Linked DNA regions of Homo sapiens: region 2 is linked to region 1. The links come from fine-mapping of genetic effects on plasma protein levels. Region 1 holds a variant in brackets. A gene starts in the other region. All regions are shown on their forward strands.

The links. A credible set is the group of variants that fine-mapping cannot tell apart. PIP is the chance, under the fine-mapping model, that this variant and not a neighbour inherited with it causes the effect. The UK Biobank Pharma Proteomics Project read protein levels with antibody pairs (Olink). The fine-mapping took linkage between variants from a reference panel, not from the people measured, so its PIPs are less certain.
Region 2: it holds the start of HPSE, and the variant in region 1 is the best candidate, but not a certain one, in a credible set for the plasma level of the HPSE protein (UK Biobank, PIP 0.60).

The regions. Positions count from the first base shown.
Region 1 is chr3:18,206,887-18,211,282 of GRCh38, forward strand. All of the region lies in intron 4 of BALR6 (B-cell acute lymphoblastic leukemia associated long RNA 6), which reads left to right. Among named protein-coding and RNA genes, the nearest start is that of SATB1, 220 kb to the right of the region's middle. The variant C/A (reference allele first, on the strand shown) is at 2,131.
Region 2 is chr4:83,332,732-83,337,127 of GRCh38, forward strand. HPSE (heparanase) reads right to left here and starts at 2,117. Exons shown (of 12, transcript NM_001098540.3): 1 at 1,825-2,117. The coding sequence starts at 2,051.

The DNA.
Region 1 (4,396 bases):
ATATTTGAGAGTTATTTCCCTTATATTTGTAATCACACCAGAATGTGGTAAAGATTAACAAACCAATGATGTTTATGACAAGTCTTTGTTTTTTTCTAGTTGTTCATAACTACCATCAAAAGCTGAGGTTCTAGAATGTCCATTTAAACATCCAGGGCACTACTGTCAGCAAGAGATCATTAATCCAGTGAGAGTATAATTAAAAGAACAGTCTTCCATCCTCCCACTCCAATTTCCAAACCTGAATAAGATGAAAATATATCTTTATTCTTGTTGCTTTCCACTTAGGGTTGTAGTGGCTACCTTACCTAAAAATAAGATTACATTGTAAAGCAAGATGTCATTTCAAAGTGTTTGTGTGTAGCTATAGAGGGCTATATGGCTTTGTTGCTTGAAGAGACTCTTATCTATCAACAGATGTGTAGGCATGGTCTGGTTGTCAGAGAATGAATAAAGAGAAGCTGATGATGCACCATACCATAAAGTGAAACATTATTTCTGCTGCAGCAAGAGGAAGATTATATCGCACATATGAAAAATTTCCTCCTTCAATATGAGTGTCAACTGCATGGTTTCTGAGAAGTATAGTTTCATGTTGCATGGGATGTGTGGGAGGTGAAGGCAGTTAGCTTCTGAATATTACAGCGTTGCCACCACACGTTAATGGAGAGACCTTGAGATGGGCCAGGCATTGAGTGCCATAATGCACCCTGGTTCTTGAGGCTATTTTAGAACACATAATTTACACTTTGGGAAATGTAAGTTGTGAGTTATAATATCCACCCCTCTTTCTTATGAGAAGGGATCTCTCCATGATATAACCAATTGTCCTGTGGGAAAGATATAGAATGTTCCAGAAAGAGGGATATAGTTGTAATAGAAAGACATTAGAAGGGCTCTTTTTGAAGAGAAGTAAATCTAGGAATTGGAAAATACCCACAGGGAAATGCTTAAGGTTTAAATTTTTGTGCTTTACTCTTAGACCAACTGGGGGTGATTTTGCCTCTTTCCAACTATTTGGCAATGTTGGGGGACATTTTTTATTGTTACAACTTAGGGCAGGGTGCTGCTGGCATCTAGTGGGTAGAGGCCAGGGATGCTGCTAAGCATATTACAATGCCTAGGACAGCCCCTTACAGCAAAGGATTATCTACCTCTAAATGTCAGTAGAACCAAGGTTGAGAACCCCTATTTTAGACTAAGAATAGCCACATTATGCTCCCTAACTTAAGTTCTTTTCCTTGTAGTTTTAATTCCCATCAGTGGAGTATGTTGTGTACATGTTATTTTGTGCTCATGGTGCTATGGAAGATGATCAGGAGGGGGCAACATGGGGAAACGTGGTCTTCCTCAGATCACCCCACTTCTGAAGTGTATCCCCTGGTGAACGCATCACATCTGGGAGGAAATGAATCTCCAGTTCCAGGCAGTAACCAGCTGCAAAGAACTCAGTGGCCTATTGTGACATTTATTTCTTTGTTGTCTCTGAGTCCCAAGCCCACATTTTCTCTATATTCTACTAGAAGTCTGCAAGCTACATTTCCCAGATTCCTCTGCTGGATAGATTCCCATTAAATTCTGCCTTTGAGCAGCATTGGCAGGAGACTGCAACATGAGAGGATGAGAGAAAGAGTCCTTGGACAACATCTTCCTGTTTGCAGCTCCTGGCACATCTCTTTAGCAGCAGAGGGCAGCTATGGCTCCAGTCTCCAGCTTTTAAAAACCCTTTCAGACCCATCCCTTAGAGGTACCATCATCAGCCCTGTGTCTGGACCCCCTCAGAGACCTAATTATCAGTGTGTGGCACCTCCATCCCTGAGCACTGGCAACATGGGGCCCTTCCTCTTGACTCCTAGGTTTTGGTGCCCATAAATTTTCCTTTTGGTTCCCTCAAACCTAGGAATTGTAGCTGCTTCCTGTGGCTACTATTGCTTCTGGGTTTCCTTCTTGCCATTAATCTTCAACATCTGTGTAACCAATTGCTTTTATTAAGTCCTCTCCATTTGAATATCAGGCATGTGTCTATTTTCTTGAACGAACACTGACAGATATACCAGGGTAGAGCTGAGAGTAAAGAGCAGAAGCAGGCAGTGTAGAACAGACGCTACCACGTGGCTTTTGGGAGGCCAC[C/A]ATGAGTTAGCACTCTTTTCTTCCAAACACATCTAGTAATGCTAGGATGTGGAGAGGCTGACACATTACCCTAGTGAAATGCAGAAGTGTTTGCTCCTAATCTCTGTGGTACAGAGGAGGAACTCTGAGGTTGACTGTTCTTCCTTTTGCATGGAAAGACATCTATCTTTACACTGAGATAAGGGTGAGCAGGATGGGACCTCATGTTTTCCTCAGCTCACATCTCTTCTGGACTACTAGGCATTGTAGCCCTGGCAAAGAAGCTTCCTGACAACAGATGAAAGAAATAGAGAATCCAGATCACTCTAGTGAAGATACAGAGTGGAGAAAACCCTGTCCTGCCCTCACACCAGTGGGGGATACAAAAAGTTCTCCTATGGGGCAAGGGGTTACAGTTAGTCTGTCAGGCCACCAATAATTAATGACCAAGTTTGCACAGACAATAGCGGCAAAGTCACAAATGGTCCTGGCTGACCCATGACAATAAGATGTCAACAATTGTACTAACACACTCCAATTTCAGAGATGTCAAAACATGACCAAATGCTTATTGTAGAATTGGTTGAATATTGAAACTCAGAACCCAGACAGATAAATGGCAAAAAGGCTAATACAAATAGGAGAGTATAAACAAGAAGGCAAATACGTGTCAATAAGAACAAACACTTTGAAAATGGTGATAACTACCCATTAGGATACCAAATTAGAATTTATCGAAAGCCCAGTCCCACAGCAGCTTCCTCTTGGAGGTCACCAGATTCAAACAAATGTCAATCCCTCATTGGCATATGACAAACCTTTTTTTAACCTCTTTGGACAATACACCTTCATGAATTATGTTTTCCCCACAACTCTAGTTATGGATAAAGGCAAATTGGAAAAGCAATCATTTATGCCTTGGAAAATTTCATTATTAGATCACATTGGTTTCCAGCAACACGTTATTTTCTCCGTATGTTTTGTCTTACCACAGTCAGCATGAGTGTCTACTATCCTGAGAAATAAGCCATCCCTTTTAGGAGTTAGTGCTTGAATACCACATGATAACAGCATTTCTCTTCACTTCCCCCATTTGGCTGTGACATTACTTGGACACAGGCACAGAGCATTATGGGTTTATTCATAGCAGCACTACTCAAGGTCTGGACGACCAGACAGAATAGCTAAAACAGCTGATCTAGTTGCAGCAGTGGACCCTGGAGACTTAAGTGGACCATTGAAAAACAGTGTCTTAGTCTTCAAAGAGCTTATGGCTTCATATGGGAGATTGAAAAGTGAACAAACCCACTATAAATCCATATGCTGACTGCTGACATAGAAGTGTGTATACCTGGTGCTGTGGGAGCATAGAGAAATGACAAACTGGACAGTATTAGCGTTTCTGGAAGGTAAGATCAAAATTCAAAATGGAAATTATGTTTGGGATGAGTCTTGATGAATGACTGGGAATTTCCCAAGAAGACAGTGTTGCAAGGGAGAAGGATAAATTCCAGAATAAGGAACAGCATGTGCAAAGGGAGGGAGAGAGATAATGTGTGGGCATTCTGGACATTTTGGGAAGTTCAATAGGAATCATAAGATACATGGACTTTGTCCTGAAGATGATAGGGTTCTAGGAAGGAAGTAAAATGATTATATTTACATGTAAATTAAAAAAATTAAAAAAAAATGACAAAATGATAGAAAACGCAGAATTTGGTGACTGGTTGAATGCAGGACTTGAGGAAAAGCAGGGAGGGCTGGAAGATTTTGAGGATGGGGTTACTAGCATCTCTAATCAGGAATACAAAGCAATGGAGGAAAGTGAAAACCTTTGAGGTGCCCATGGAATATCTTCACATGGCTGCTCTATCTCAGCTAGAAGTGTAGCATAAGGGAAAGGGCCAGACTCTGGACGTAGATTTGAAAGCAATCAGATTCAGATGTCAGTTGAAGCTCTAGACATCGAAGAGATTGTTTTATGATTAAAAAACAAAAACAAAGGCCAAAAAAAGGAATGCTGGGACCTTTGAGCTAACGTTTGGGTGAATGGAAAATATAAAAACAGAAAGTAGATGGGGGAATAGAGCAAGGAGATAGAAAGTGGAGAGTGGAGTCACGGAAATTAAGGTAGGAGAAAAGTTTATGAAGGCAGTGGTCAGTAAGGTCTAATGCAGCAGAAGGTGAAAAATAAGCACAAAACAGACACTGTGGCTCCTTCTGCTTGAAGGTCCTACTGAACTTGAGGGTAGCCACAAGTTGAGGCCAGGCCTTTATGGGTGCACCA
Region 2 (4,396 bases), not on the chromosome of region 1:
GATCAGGCCCAGATCCTGGAAGTCCCACTGTATGTTTTTTCTTTTGGACCTGTTACTCCAGGGGGGAACCCCCATCTGTCCTTTCTTGGGGAGAGGTTGGGGAATATGCTGGCTACAGCAATAGAAGAGGCCTCAGGTCCTCACATTTCAGTAAATGGACATCTACTTCATACCCATGTTCAGTAACCGCCCCCCCCCACCCCACACCCCAGCAAGCTAAGACTGGGGTCCTGTGATCTGGAGCCCTATGGTTCAGCATTTCTCTGGAACAATCTTCCTATCCCCCAACTAGTTGCTGCCTAGTATCAGCTTCCTATCCTTAAGGGGAAGGGCAGAAAGTAAGGATTCTTCCCCACCAGAAAATTGTAGTGCCAGAAGGAAAAGGAGAGGTTAACTATGATCCAAAGAAACAGAAAACCGGTGAATGGCTACCAAATGCTCACCATGTCCTAGAAAGAAACAATTCGTTTGAAACGTCAAACACTTACTATGGGTCAAACACTGAGAAGCTCTTACCATATCATCAAATCCTCGGGCAATAATCCTTGAGGCAAGCTTGAGAAATTCCATTCTACAGCTGAAGAAATCAAGGTTGGTGTGGCCAAGAGATATGGAAAAACCAAGTCACTCATCTTTGCCAGAGCTGAGAGTCAAGCCAGGATGGTCTGTCCATCTCTTAACCAGTACACTACCCATTAAATTAGCGCTGGCAACTATAGTGTGGGCTCAGGGAGGACAGCATCTAGGTATTTGACACAGAGGTGAGATAATGGTGATCTTTCCCTCTATCTGGGCTGGTCAAGATGTGGCCATCTCTGGAGGCTCCCAGGGCCTAAATAAGAGGCCTAGAAGACCTGGGATTGTCCCTGTAGCTCCCCATCTTGGAGTCAGCCTGCATTCATGGGGCAGGAGCCCTGAACCTGCATCAGGTTCCTTCTTTCTCAGGTAAGGAAAAAACTTAGAGCTGATAAGGCAGCACCACATTTTGCAGCCCCATTTTGGAGAGACATCTTTTTATTAGGACTTTGTAAGTCACTGCAGTAGTCTCCTAGGTCTCATTTATTGAATATTTAGATTTTTATTCCTGTTCTGTGACGCCCTTTTCATCTGCCTAAAAAAAAAAAAAGAAAAGAAAAAAGAAAAAGAAAAGAAAAGAAAGAGAAATCTTCCTAACACAGTCTTAAATACAGAAGGCTATGCACAATCTTACTTGTCCTACACTGCACAGCAAATCAAGCACTCACAGGCCTTCAGGTGCACCTGCCTGGTTTCCCTCCTCTTGGCTAGGGAAGTACTGGGGCAAGTGGGCAGTTTCTTTTTCAAATTTCCACTTATACCTGACCTTAGGTGGTGCCTATTCAACACTTACAGAATGAATGAAACAAAAAGGCTCATTTAGAGTGGGCGCTAAACAATGTGTACACATGGACTTAGTGGAATAGTAGACACTGGAGACTCCAAAAGGTGGGAGGGTGGGAGAGGGATGAGGGATGAGAAATTACCTATTAGATACAATGTACAACATTCGGGTGACAGTTACACTAAGAGCCCAGATGCCACCACAATGCAATATACCCATGGAACAGAACTGCACTTGTAACCCCTAAATCTATTTTTTAAATGATACCCCCCAAAAAGCAGTTTGGGGTCTGAGAGTAAGGGAGGGAGAGGGAGAATGAGAGGCGGGAAGTGGGGTGGGGAGAGACAGGCGGGGAGGTTCCGGTGTGAAGTTGTTTCCGCGCAAAAGAAGGAGAGCGGCTGGCGGGGCAGACATAGGTGTCAGGAGGACAGGAAAGGGGACAGGACCAGGAGGCTGGCGCTTACCCCAGGAGGATGAGGAACCGCGGGTCCGTGGCCAGGTTGGCGTCAATGGTGACGGACAGGAACGAGGGGCTCACCAGGTGCAGCGGCTCCTGGGTGAAGAAGTCCAGGTCCACGACGTCCTGTGCTTGCGCAGGTCGGGGCAGGGCGCCAGGGGAGAGGGGACCCAGCGGCCCCAGGAGCAGCAGCATCAGCGGCGGCGGCAGCGCAGGCTTCGAGCGCAGCAGCATCTTGGGCTCACCTGGCTGCTCCCCCCGCCAGCTGCCGCGCAGCGGAGAGTCGAGAGCTCTAGCACTTCCTCCCGCCGAGCCCCAGCGCCCTTTTCTCCTTTCCTCCGCCCCGTTACGCCTCCTCACCCCTCCCACTGCGCCCTCCATCCCTCCCACTCCTCTTCTGCATCCCTCCCACTGCTCCCAATCCAACCCCGCCCCGCCTGCCCGGCTCTCTCCTACTTCCTTGCTCGCTTTCCCCTCGGTGGCGGTCACGTTCACTTACGAAATCACCCACACCCACTTGAAGGGTGCGGAGATGGCCGGGATCCAAGCGCCCGGGAGGCCTGGGGAGGAGCGCCCGGGGAGGAGCGCCCGGGGAGCAGCGCTGGGCATCCCGGACCAGGCTTCCTGACGCACGTGTTCTGCGCGCTCTCGTGGGAACCCAGCGTTTCCGACTCCCAGATCCCATTCTGATGGCGCCGGGTATCCCTCTGACCCTCGAGTAAAACCTCCAATGGAGTATTCATCCCTTCCTCTCCCATCTAGCTTATAAACACTTGCTTGTCACTTGAGCCAGCCAAAATCTGATTGTCCTCTGGCCAGGCAGTTTCTCAGGTATTTTACTTTTGCTTGAAAAAATCTGGCCTCAGCATACGCTAAACTGCAGCTGGAAAGAGATCAACCACCCAAAATTCTTTATCAACTTCTCATTAAGACAATATTTAGCAATCTTAAAGGGTTAGTTGCTCCAATGTCTGGAACTCAGGACCTGAAGCCCCCATACAAAGTGTAGAGTACGGACTGCCCCTGAATTTGGAGCCTTTGCCAAATTTCTCCTCTGCGCATTTATCTTTCGCTGTTGGTCAGACTTTTCTTCAGCTTTTCCTTGATGCTTACACTGATGTATAATCATAGCAAGCATCGCACGCTTAGTGCCTACTGTATGCCTGATACAGGTGCTTTACTTGTGTTCTCTTCCCTTCTCACAACCCTGCCAAGTGCATACTGTCCTTGTTTTACACATGCGGACCCAAGCTCTGAGACAGTAACTGGGTGAAGTGTCAGAATCGGGATGTGAAGTGTCAGAATCGGGATGTGAATGCAGTTACAAAACCTCGAGCAGATGGCAGTGTGTTTCAGCTGAAATGTAACTTCCCTCAAGGAAGCTTTCTCTCAATCTCCAGGCAGCTCTCCATGACACACTCTCATAGCATCCTCAATTTGTTAGACACTCTCGTAGCATCCTCAATTTGTTAGACACTCTCGTAGCATCCTCAATTTGTTAGTATTGTGATGTTGCTCAACATTGGCTTCATCTACTAGATTATATGCTCCACCAAAACAGAGATTAAGTTTGTCTCACACGCTATGCTAGCCATAGCTCAGGCATGTGATCATGTTGGTGCTTAGTAAGAGTCTAATAAATATTGGTTGAGTAAGCAAATAACACCAAAACCCTTAGATTTTTCCACTTGAGATTGTACCACCAATAAGGCAACAAATAAAAATAGATTATTTTGAAATGCATATCTAATTTGCATAAATCAGGCCAGGCATGGTATGTGATGCCAGTGATGCCATCATGCCTGTGATGCCAGCATTTTGGGAGGCCAAGGTGGGAGGATTGCTTGAGCCGAGGAATTCAAGAACAGCCTGGGCAACATGATGAAACCCCATCTCTACAAAAAATACAAAAAATTAGCCAGGCGTGGTGGCCCGTGCCTGTGGTTCCAGCTACTGGGGAGGCTGAGGTGGGAGGTTTATTTGAGCCTGGGAGGTGGAGGTTGCAGTGACCCTTAATCACACCACTGCACTCCAGCCTGGGTGACAAAGTGAGACCCTCTCTTAAAATAATAATAATAATTATCATTATTTGCATAGATCTACCTATTCTTAAGCAACTTAAAAGCTAAGCTCATAGTGAGTTTTGCAACTAGAATCAGGTTCATATCCTACAATTACTGTATACATATGAAAAAAAATTCACACATAAACACCACACTACCAGAAGAGTGTAATAATATGGTAGCAGACGTGGAGTTGGAAAAACAGAAGTTTCTTTTCCACATTTGTCATGACATTAATCTTACACCCCACCCCATGCCCCTGACTCCTGTTGTGAGTCAACAGTCATACCAATTTCTTTCTTTTTTTTTTTTTTTGAGACGGAGTCTCGCTCTGTCGCCCAGGCTGGAGTGCAGTGGCACCATCTCGGCTCACTGCAAGCTCTGCCTCCTGGATTCACGCCATTCTCCTGCCTCAGCCTCCCGAGTAGCTGGGACTACAGGGGCCTGCCATCACCCCCGGCTAATTGTTTTGTATTTTTAGTAGAGATGGGATTTCACCATGTCTGTCAGGATGGT